Linked DNA regions of Homo sapiens. The protein of the gene in region 3 purifies or fractionates together with the protein of the main gene of each other region. This does not show direct contact. Each region holds a gene or a part of one and is shown on either strand. Other genes may lie near its edges.

Region 1 (3,751 bases), on a different chromosome or scaffold from region 3:
TTACCCATGTGCCCAAAAAATTGTACATAAACCTCTCAACATTTGATCAAGATAAAAAGTATTTCTACACAAGAAACTGACGCTCAGAAAAGAATCATAACTTGCCAAAAGTCACAAATATCTAATTCTAGGAATCAGCTCTGTAGACTCAAATTCTCATCCTGAGTACATTTCTTCCATCTTGAGTGTTTTTATTTTTCTGAAGTTCTAAGAGTCCCAGACTGAAAAACACAGAACTTTCAGTGGCCAGTAAGGTTCCCAAACAGGGCCAGTGTCCTTAAATCTCAGTTTAAGATAGGGAGAAAAGGGAGAAAAGGAAGGGCATAATAGTATCCGGTCTCCTGGGAGTTGCATGCCTCCAAACTAGTGGTTCACAAATTCTGGGTTGCAGGAGCCTACAGAATTATTGTAACAAGACCTCAAATCCATTTTCATAACCACCATTATCTGTACACCAAATACAATAAATATATTCTATTTTTCAACTATATGTGATTAATAAAATCAAAATTCACTTAAAAGCTAAAGTAAAGGGATAGAGAAGGAAGAAACAAAAAAGTTATTGGGAGCATTATCACTTTTGAATTATATAAGCATCCTCTAGACATCTCTACGGACCTGTCTCTGATTTAAATATGTTTTCTTCCAAATTACCAAGGATAATGCCAAAATGAACTCAGAGTAGTCTACACAGATAGAAGGAAAATAAACTGATACCTTTAATCCAGCAACTCAACATCTAGGAATTTATCACCAATGAGTTCAAAATTTTTTTCCAGGCTGGGTGTGGTGGCTGTAATCCCAACACTTTGGAAGGCCGAGGTGGGCGGATCACCTGAGGTCAGGAGTTCGGGACCAGCCTGACCAACACGGAGAAACCCCGTCTCTACTAAAAATACAAAAAATTAGCTGGGTATGGTGGCACATGCCTGTAATCCCAGCTACTTGGGAGGCTGAGGTAGGAGAATCGCTTGGACCCGGGAGGCAGAGGTTGCGGTGAGCCGAGACTGCGCCATTGCACTCCAGCCTGGGCAATAAGAGCGAAACTCCGTTTCAAAAAAAAAAAAATTTCTGTAAAGCAAAACTACCTCATGACTCATAATAGTCAAATAACAAGAAACACAAATGAAAATAAAATAAAACCACAAAGCCTAAATGTCTAATAACACGGGACCAATTAAACAAAATGACATAAAGTCATTACATGGAATATAATGTATCCATAATAAATTTTGGCTGGGCACAGTGGCTCACACCTACAATCGCAGCACTTTGGGGCACTGAGGTGAGAGGATCACTTGAGCCCAGGAGCTGGAGACCAGCCTGGGCAACATAGTGGGACCCCATCTCTACAAAAAAATTTAAAAAATTAGCCAGGCATGGTTGGCTGGGCATGGTGGCTCATGCCTGTAATCCCAGCACTTAGGGAGGCCAAAGCAAGTGGATCATTTGAGGTCAGGAATTCAAGACCAGCCTGGCCAACATGGTGAAACAGTGTCTCTACCAAAAATACAAAAATTAACCAGACGTGGTGGTGCACGCCTGTAATACCAGCTACTTAGGAGGCTGAGGCACAAGAATTGCTTGAAGCCAGGAGGCAGAGTTTGCAGTGAGCCAAGATGGTGCCACTAAATTCCAGTCTGGGTGACACAGCGAGACTCCATCTAAAAAAAAAAAATTAGCCAGGCGTGATGGCATGTGCCTGTAGTCCCAGCTACTTGAGAAACTGGGGCTGGAGGATCGCTTGAGCCCAGGAGGTCGAGGCTGCAGTGAACTATGATCATGCCACTGTACTCCAGCATGGGTGACAGAGCAAGACCCTGTCCCTTTAAAAAAAAAGAAAAAAAATACAATATAGAAGAATATTTAATAACATAAGGAAGTATTTACTATATGTTAAGGAGGAAAAAGCAAATACAGAACAGCAAACAGGACAACAGTAAATTGAAAAATACATACATCTACAGTAAAAGATCTGGAATGATAATAAACAGTATTTAAAGGGTGACTAGTAATCTTTAGGTAGTGATATCAAGGGTAATTTAAATTTTGTTTCTGTGGGTCCATATTTTACAAATATTCGATAATAAACATAGAGCATTTTTTACATCAAAATATATATTAAAAGATATATAAAATATATTTTAATATATATGATATAAAAAGTGTCTATTTTTTTCTTAGACATGGGGTATTGACGAGATGCTGTCTTTTTCTTTTGTAGAGACAAAGAAGAAAAGAATATATATATATTTACATATTTTTAACATAATAATATATAACTATGCACATATATTTTATGTAATAAAAATATATAAATATTTATATATTTTTTTTCTTTTGTAGAGATGGGGTATGTTTCCCAGGCTGGTCTCAAACTCCTGGTCTCAAGTGATGGTCCTGCCTCAGCCTCCCAAAGTGCTAGGATTACAGGCATGAGCCACCGTGCCTAGCCTATATTCATTTTTAAATGTGAAATTTTAAAATTAGTTTTGAAAAGAGTTGAAATAAATTCACCTTCTATTCTAGTTGTCAAATCATAACACTTGTACTCTGAACCATGAATCAATCACATGTTGACACAAGGTACTATTTTAAGTACTATTTGATTTTAAGTAATAAGACTAACAGGAAAAAGGTAAACACACTTAAAAATCTATCAGATTTTATCATCTAAATTATCTAAGTCATTCAATAATATGTAAACAAGATAAGAATCATTCTATACCAATGAAATTACCTAATATGTAAAAAATACTTTCAAAGTTTCTCCCAGTTCTCATATGAGTATACTAAAATCTTAAACATCAAGATAAAATCTATTTTTCCCTCTCTTGCTGTTCTAACCTTAGAGCGCTTATCTGTAATCTCAATTAGACATATACAATAGCCATGTATAATAATGAACAGCTTTCGTAACAGAAGTCAAAAGGCCCAATATGAGAACCTTATCACCTACATTTTCTTCCTCCTCATCATTATTATTATTGCAGATGGGGTCTCATTGTGTTGCCCATGCTGGTCTCAAACTCCTGGGCACAAGTGATCCTCCTGCCTTGGCCTCCCAAAGTGCAGGGATTACAGGTGTGAGCCACCCTGCCCTGCCCCTCTTACATTTTCAACTCTTAGACCTGGGCAAGTTAACTTACCTCCCTAAATCTCACTTTTCCTAGCTCTAAAATAGAATAATAATATTTATCTCATAGGGTTTTTGTGAAGACTATTATATCAAAGAACACATGCTAAATGCTCAGTACAGTGCCTGAAGAATAGAAAGTACTCAATAAGTGGTGACTGTTATTAAAGTCACAATGCAATAGTTTTTAAGTCAGAAAACCTGGCAAGCCTCTGGAAAACTATATGACCCTGGGCAAGCTACTTACCCTGTATGGACCTCAGTTTCATCCTCCACAAAACATATATAAAATACCTATCTTACAGGTATGTACCAAGAATTAAACAAAACTGTATACAAAAAGCATCTTGCATATATTAGGTGCTCACTAAATTGTAACTAGCATCATTATTAGATACAAAAATAAACATTTGAGTACAGGGATTAGCAGTTTACAAAATATTTTTATGTATAAGAGTATATGTAATTTTATGAATTATTTAAATAAGTGTATTTAATTATTAAATTAGGTGTAAATTTCAGAAAAAAAGTAAAATACAGGCAATCTCTAAGCACACAAAAATAAAAGGCCTTTTTTTAGTCTCAAAGTAAAAATGTGTTCCCTATAACTGAATC
Region 2 (3,751 bases), on a different chromosome or scaffold from region 3:
CTTAGGTAAACAGTATTTCCTTAGTTGCAGTTTAAAAATAAGAAAAAATGACTGCTAAAATGGATCAGGGGAAAAATCTGTTGACAGCCTCACAAAATTATTATTGTATTGACAACTTAAGCCTTTTCAAGGTTGAGGTCTGCCACACTGCTCTAACCCTGAATCATAAGCAAATGTCCTAGGTGTTTTCAGATAGGTGAGTTTGTTTGTGGGACAAGTCAGAGAAGAGAAAAGAAACCGGTTGTAGTTACAAGACTCTAGGAACCCGACAAGTCATTTATAATCCAACTACCCTCTCAGTATCAGACTGGCTTCCACAAGTCTAAAAGATGGTCAATCAGTATTTGCCTGCTTGTTTCCAACAATAGCAAATGAACCATTGGTAAACTGACCATTCTCAGAGTCGGACAGCTCGAATTTGTTGCAAAATCCTTCGAAGTTATCTCCCAGTAACTTTCATTCCTGGTCCTGGTTCAAGAGCAACATAGTGAAAGGTGAAAGTCGTCTTTTTCTTTAAAAAAACTTTTTTTAAAAAAAAAAAAAACAGGTTTTACTTCCTGGCATGTCAATACGTTCCCTTCTTTCAACAATGGGGAAATAAATCTCACCCCCTTTTCCCCCCTTCAATGTTTGACTCCCCTTAAAGAAAAACGGAATACCAGGCACAGGGAACATAGAGTTCCTCTGACTCAGAGCCGCGACCTCTGAGCAGAGCGGAGGAAAGGGGCTTAAAAAACCACACACACTAGGAAGAGTTGCAGCTGATACGAATCACCATTGCCAAAAAGCAAACTGCTTCAGCCGGTGCCCAGGTGCTGGGACGCGATAGAAGCCGCACAGACTTGGCCTGGCAGCTCTGAGGAAATGGGGGCCAAGGAGCCTGCACCTCTTCTTGCCAAAGCCCGGGAGAGCTGAGTGGGCGCTCGTTCTCAGGCCGGCTGCAAGCCCGGCGCTTCACAAGGCAGAGCGTTCGGCCCCCGGGAAGCGGCATCGCTAAAAGGAAGGCTCAGTGAAACGCTTGGCAAAGTCCAAGCCGCGCCGCCCAGCCAGTTGTCTATAAGCCCAGCCACCCCGCCTGCCAGACGCCATCCTGGGAACCCGCACCGGCGGGAGCTCCCGGAGTTGGAAACGTCTTTGGCTCGGCCGCGGTCCCCTCTGCCCGTCTATCCCGCCTCTCCACCCTCGCTCACTCCCTGGCCCGAGACTGAGCCGGGGTCCACCCCAGGGGGTGGTGCCCAGGAGGCACACCACGCTTGGGGGAATGGTGGAGACCGGGATGAGGCTTCCTGGAGGGCGGGCGGGCGGCCGCGGCGGGTCACTCACCGAAAGGACGCTCATGCGGATTGGGGTCTCCAACAAGCACGCCATCTTGAGCCTTCCCACCCGGCTGCTGCAGGCGCCGGCGCGGGGGCCGGCACTTTCGACAGCCAACTATTGGCCAACGCTAGGCACCGCTCCCTAAAGGCAGCCAGATAGACGAGAACTGGCCACGCTCTGGACACCGCTCAAGTACCGGAAAGGCCCGCAGAAAGAAGGGCAAAAGGGAATGGCGTCAGGGGCTGTCCTACGAATCGTTCTCTCAGAAACAGCAGCTACTCTGAGCCTGGGTTAGAGGTGGAAGCGGGCAGCGGTTTCCGCATGCGCAAAGAAGATCTGCCGGCCCCACCTGCCGCTCGCGGTGGGCGGGGCCCCAGAGGCGGAGTCTCGCCCTGACGCTACGAGTTTTACGGACTGATAAATTGCAGTTTATGGATTCCAGTATTCATATTTGGAAAAAGTAGTACGTGGAGCCACATACATAGTTTGAAGTTCACTTTCATATTCATTCTCTCTCTCTGCACCAAACTCCCGGCGTCGTTATCTCCATTTTATAGGTGGGGAAATTGCGATCCCAGAACCTTTGCCAACCGTAAGAGTGATTGTTTCACGATCCGATACAGATACGTGACTTGCCTTAGCGTTGTGTGCCGGCCCCGTTTATTCTGGTGTAGTGTTAAGAATAGCCAGAATGCTTGGGTTTCTTCCTAGCTACTTGATTTATCAGCTGCTTTACCCTGGGCAAGTTATCTAACCTTCTGTTTGAGTTTCCTCATCTATAAAATAAAGGTTAATGAGGATAGAGGAGTCAACAAACGTGAAGCTCTCAGAAAAAACCTAGAACATAGAAAGCGTTATACAATATGTGTTAACATTTCTCCAGCTTCTGAGTTAAGTGGGGAAAATGGGGGCAAATATCTAAATATTTCGCACTAAAACACTCTCATAACCGAAGCTAAATAAAAGTATGCTTTCAATTATACTTGATTAATTCAGCTGTCCTACTACTTTGTGTGTGTGTGTGTGTGTGTGTGCAACACTGCCCTTGACTTGGTTGGATAAGTTTCACCTTCGTACTGCTTGCAACCAGTAAGGTTTTCACAGTATGGTTGCAATTGGCCTGTTAACATTACTTGTATTCCTTCCATTTCTATAGCCACACCCTAATTCAGGCTCTTGTAACCTCTCCCCTGGACTACAGCAATAGCCTTCCAACTGGTCTTGTAGCTGGTAGCCTCTCCCGCACTCTGCTCCTCACTGTTTTCCTGTCTTCCTCCTGTACTTGGTTTCCAAATTTAGTGTAGCATTTACCACCCCTGCTTATGGGTCTGTGTTCCTTAACAAACTGTTGAATTCCTGGAAGGCAGGAATTTTATTTTAGGTAGTCCTTCTGCTATAATACTATTTCTGAAACTTGGGTAATCTGTACACCACCTACACAATCTTTGCCAATCTGCACCTAGGTATTATTATTCATTCAATATTTTTATTTAAAGCCAATTTCAACTCATTAAAAATTTTTGGCTTTATCCTAAACCATAATACTCTGTGAAATCAAGTTTGTTGTGCTCCTTATTTTTATTCTAGTACACATTAACTACAAAAAGTTTAAATGTCCATCCATGGACCACCTAAAATCACATCATGTACTGCATACTGCAATGGGGCAGAACATAACCCTAATACATAGTATATAGAGTCATTATAACTGTATTTGATCCACACTCCATCCATTAGCTCAAGCAATACATCCTCCAGGAATTGTCTCCCCCAGGCATGGGTTAGATACCCTTTCCCCCATGCCTTCATACTTCACTTTAATTGTAGGGTGGTTTTGTTGTTGTTAATTGTTTCCGTGTTTGTCTCACTATACACTTCAAGACAGGCACTGGGAGTTTTATCTTCTAGGTTGTCTATCTCAGTGCCTAGCACAGTCACTTAGTAAATGTTTGTTGTACGAATTTTTGGCTTAGTTTGAGCCTGGGACGAAGATTTGGGTGCATTTTGTTTATTTAGTAAGTGCTTTCAGGGAACAAAATTGATAGGTCAGGGAGAGTGAAAAAAGAAAGAATAAATATTCAAGATAATTGTCCATTATTGATGCCACTGTTTATTCCTCAATCACCTCTGAAAACATACAGAATACCTCTCTGGATTGTCCATCTTGAAGCTACAGCATTCATCCACCAATACCATATGTATTGGTTGAGGATTTCCCTAGGGCTATTAACTCCCTGCCCTCCTGGATTATATTTGTGCCCAGAACAGAACGGGCTTCTTTAACCTGATACAAAAAAGCAGAGTCTGCAGGTTTCATCTTAGGGTGGGATATAGGCAGCATAAATCTGAGCTTGCACAGAACTGTCACTGCTGCTGTGGCTGAAATCCGAGCGGGGAGGAGCTAGAAATGTGACTCAAGACATCTCACACCTCT
Region 3 (3,751 bases):
CAGCGAGTGCAGGGTCGGGACCAGACTAAGTGGCGTGGGTTCCGGGAGGAGCAGCGATGGGCCGCAGGGGACGCCGCGGGCCGGGCAAACAAGCTGGCCAGAGGTGGACACTGCGCACGGCAGGGATGGAGACTCAGGCGCGACTCCCAGCACCTCCTGGCGGCAAGCCGGGCAGCGAGGGCTCCCAAAACAATGCAGCCGGCGCGCGGAGCGCGGGGGCCGCCAGCCACTTCCGGGCGTGCGGCAGCGCGGGGCTCAAACCAGCCAGACCAGCTTCGGGCTCCTTGAACTCCCAACAAGGGGCTCTGCGGGGAGGAGGCGACCCCAGCGGAGGGCGTTGGGGATTTAGGGGTTGGCCGGGGCCGGCGGGGGGTTGGGGGGGCGTGAAAGCGAGAGGGCCCTTATCCCACTCCCAGGCCCAAGTCGTAGCATCTCTCAGAGCTCACGCTCTTTATTAGCTCTTTCTTTTGGTGTGCTTCTGTTTCCTTTGTGGTTTCATTGCAAAGTAGTTTATGTTGGGAAGGGGGCTTTTAGGCCTCTTGGTGCTTTCGTTAGAGACGAAAAGGCCCTGAACCAATTTGGGGAAAGAGAGGCCTTTTGCAGCTACCCCGGGCCCTTCCCCAGCAGAGCACCCGGAAGCTGGGCTCTTAGGGACGCAGATTCTTGGAGTTCAGAATGTGCATTCTCTCCAGATGACGATTTTCCTGGCGTGTTTACGGTCAGCAGATAACACTGAGTGGGCTTTTGCCACCCATTCATTCATTACCCGGCTCCTCTAAGCAGCTGGACCGCAAAGTGTGCCTGATAACTTGGGCCTGGGAGCCGCCAAGGCCAACGCATCTTCCGGAAGGAGGGAAATTAGGAAGCCGGGGTCTGAGCCTGTGAATGACTCTTAAGTGGTCGGGAAGTAATAACAATGCGCCCACCTTACATATGAAAGAACTTCGCCCTCCGGGGATTATCTCTTTGGATCTTCACAGCCACCCGGAGACAGCGGCTGAGGAGAGCGAAGGCCTCCTGTCCCCATAGGGAGACTAGGGACAATTAGGCAAAAGGAGCCCACCCCCCAACCCAGAACTTACTGTTTGCAGTCAGAGACACTAGATCCCAGGCTCCACGAGAGCAGAGGCCGGCCTGTTTGTTCATTTCTGCACATCCAGCGCCCAGCATGGTGCCCCCTGGTACGTAGGGGATGAATGAGCTAATTCTAGCCCTCGTGGATCTCTAGGCAGGACTCCTTCCTCTACCTCGCTCCCTCCCAGCCTGCCCATCTTTTGTGCCCGTCTTTTGTGCCGGCCACCAGTCTTTACAAACAGTGCCCTGGGGGCCCATACTCCAGCTTTCCAGAGCGCACAGCTGCAAGGGCGGCTGTGTGTTAGAGCCCGTGATGCCTTCGAGTATTGAGTCATGCCATTCATTTAAGAAGGAAAAATCTCTCCAAAACGGGGAAATGGTGGGCAGTCCTGTGTGACTGGTGAGACTCTTGTAGGGGCGTTTCTACAACGACGAAACCCTTCCTAGGCACTCACTCCAACAGAATAACAAGCCCATTTTATTAGTATTTCGTTTTCCATGTAAAGTTCTGCTCATACGAATATATTTATAATTCTGATTTTTTTACGGCATTGGGGAGCACACCGACAGGCTGCTGAACGGTGGCTGGAGATTCGAGGGAAAACGAAGTTCGCCGAGGCGGCCTCGGGCGGGCAGGTCCCGGGCTCCATCACAGGGCACACGCGGCTACCAGGGACGCAGCCCCCCAACACACACACACACACACACACACACACACACACACACACACACACCCTCTCCCACTCATGCCTGGCAACCCAGCAGAAACTTCGGACTGGGGCAAAACAAGCCCGGGCCCCGGCGGCACGCGGGGCTAGGCGCGTTCCCGCCAGTACCTGGTCGCGAGGCCGCTCGCGGGGTGCCCTGCGTGCCCCCCACTCCCGCAGCCCGCGCCCTGCTCGCTCACTGTGGGGGCGCAGCGGCCAGGCTTCTCTGTTTGTTGTTTAAAGAAATCCTAGGGCGGGCGAGCGGCGGCATCTAGGGGAGGGGGCGCAGCCAGAATTCCCTTCCAGCAAGCGCGTGAGGGGCATTCTCAACGCAAAACCAGACCCAGAAAGTAGTGACCAGCCCTCCTCGGATTACCCTTCATTGGCTCCTCCCTTGCTCCCCCCACCCTCCAGATTTGCATAAAAAAGGCCAAGAAAACTCTGGCTGTGCCCCAGCAACGGCTCATTCTGCTCCCCCGGGTCGGAGCCCCCCGGAGCTGCGCGCGGGCTTGCAGCGCCTCGCCCGCGCTGTCCTCCCGGTGTCCCGCTTCTCCGCGCCCCAGCCGCCGGCTGCCAGCTTTTCGGGGCCCCGAGTCGCACCCAGCGAAGAGAGCGGGCCCGGGACAAGCTCGAACTCCGGCCGCCTCGCCCTTCCCCGGCTCCGCTCCCTCTGCCCCCTCGGGGTCGCGCGCCCACGATGCTGCAGGGCCCTGGCTCGCTGCTGCTGCTCTTCCTCGCCTCGCACTGCTGCCTGGGCTCGGCGCGCGGGCTCTTCCTCTTTGGCCAGCCCGACTTCTCCTACAAGCGCAGCAATTGCAAGCCCATCCCTGCCAACCTGCAGCTGTGCCACGGCATCGAATACCAGAACATGCGGCTGCCCAACCTGCTGGGCCACGAGACCATGAAGGAGGTGCTGGAGCAGGCCGGCGCTTGGATCCCGCTGGTCATGAAGCAGTGCCACCCGGACACCAAGAAGTTCCTGTGCTCGCTCTTCGCCCCCGTCTGCCTCGATGACCTAGACGAGACCATCCAGCCATGCCACTCGCTCTGCGTGCAGGTGAAGGACCGCTGCGCCCCGGTCATGTCCGCCTTCGGCTTCCCCTGGCCCGACATGCTTGAGTGCGACCGTTTCCCCCAGGACAACGACCTTTGCATCCCCCTCGCTAGCAGCGACCACCTCCTGCCAGCCACCGAGGAAGGTAAGCCTTCCCTCTTGCTTCCCCACTCCCTGCTGGGCTGAGACGCTCCCAGGAGATCCCGCCCCTGCCACGCATCCCAGTGCATCCCTGCTTGGGGTGCCAGTAGCGGGAAGGGCAGAAGTTCTGCCTGACCTGGTCTGTCATCACAACAAGCCTGTATCAAATTTGAGGCACCCCTCCCACGCCGCCCAAGTCTCGCGCATTCTCCTCCCGAGTTGTACCAGCTATACTTAAGGGCAGTTTAAAAATAAAACAAACAAACAAAAACAACAAAACTAAAAAAACGAAGAACTGAACGGCGGTTTAAAAAAAAATAGATACACGATTATTGTTAAAGATGCTAGCACTGGAGCTGCGCAGAGCGTTGGAAGTGGTGTTTGGTGGAGGAGTTTGTGGTGAGCATTCTGGCCAGAGGCCCCTCGCTCAGCCTCATTCTGCACCTTCCTACCACTGGGCAGGATTCTAGTCACAGGAACATTTCCTGTACAGAAAGGAAAACCAGGATGCACAAGTAGATAACCTTTTAAGGGTCTTTTTGTCCTTTGTCAATTTAGATTTTGGAAATAAAACCGGGACTGGCACGGAGTGTGTGGAAAATTGAACATTGGTTGTAACTGCTCAGATACTTGAGGAAGAGGGCATAAAGGGAATCTCTGGAAATCACTTTTCTATTGCTATCAGTTTTTAACTTAGGAGTGGTTTTGATTAGCTGGAGAAAATCATGCAAAAGAGATTCCCAAGTTTTTAGAAAACGGAGGGAGAGTTCCTGTG

The links.
Region 1: the proteins of SFRP2 (region 3) and MKLN1 purify together in Homo sapiens (affinity purification with mass spectrometry; 4 studies listed by BioGRID and IntAct, with this or other methods). This does not show direct contact.
Region 2: the proteins of SFRP2 (region 3) and ARMC8 purify together in Homo sapiens (affinity purification with mass spectrometry; 3 studies listed by BioGRID and IntAct, with this or other methods). This does not show direct contact.

The regions. Positions count from the first base shown.
Region 1 is NC_000007.14:131,330,858-131,334,608, reverse strand, and holds part of MKLN1 (muskelin), read right to left. Parts: intron 1-3,751. UniProt on the Homo sapiens protein: Component of the CTLH E3 ubiquitin-protein ligase complex that selectively accepts ubiquitin from UBE2H and mediates ubiquitination and subsequent proteasomal degradation of the transcription factor HBP1.
Region 2 is NC_000003.12:138,185,172-138,188,922, reverse strand, and holds the start of ARMC8 (armadillo repeat-containing protein 8), read right to left. Parts: upstream 1,623-3,751; 5' UTR 1,369-1,622; coding exon 1,324-1,368; intron 523-1,323; exon of another isoform or gene 396-522; coding exon of another isoform or gene 393-395; intron 1-392. UniProt on the Homo sapiens protein: Component of the CTLH E3 ubiquitin-protein ligase complex that selectively accepts ubiquitin from UBE2H and mediates ubiquitination and subsequent proteasomal degradation of the transcription factor HBP1.
Region 3 is NC_000004.12:153,787,563-153,791,313, reverse strand, and holds the start of SFRP2 (secreted frizzled-related protein 2 precursor), read left to right. Parts: upstream 1-2,230; 5' UTR 2,231-2,478; coding exon 2,479-2,980; intron 2,981-3,751. UniProt on the Homo sapiens protein: Soluble frizzled-related proteins (sFRPS) function as modulators of Wnt signaling through direct interaction with Wnts. They have a role in regulating cell growth and differentiation in specific cell types.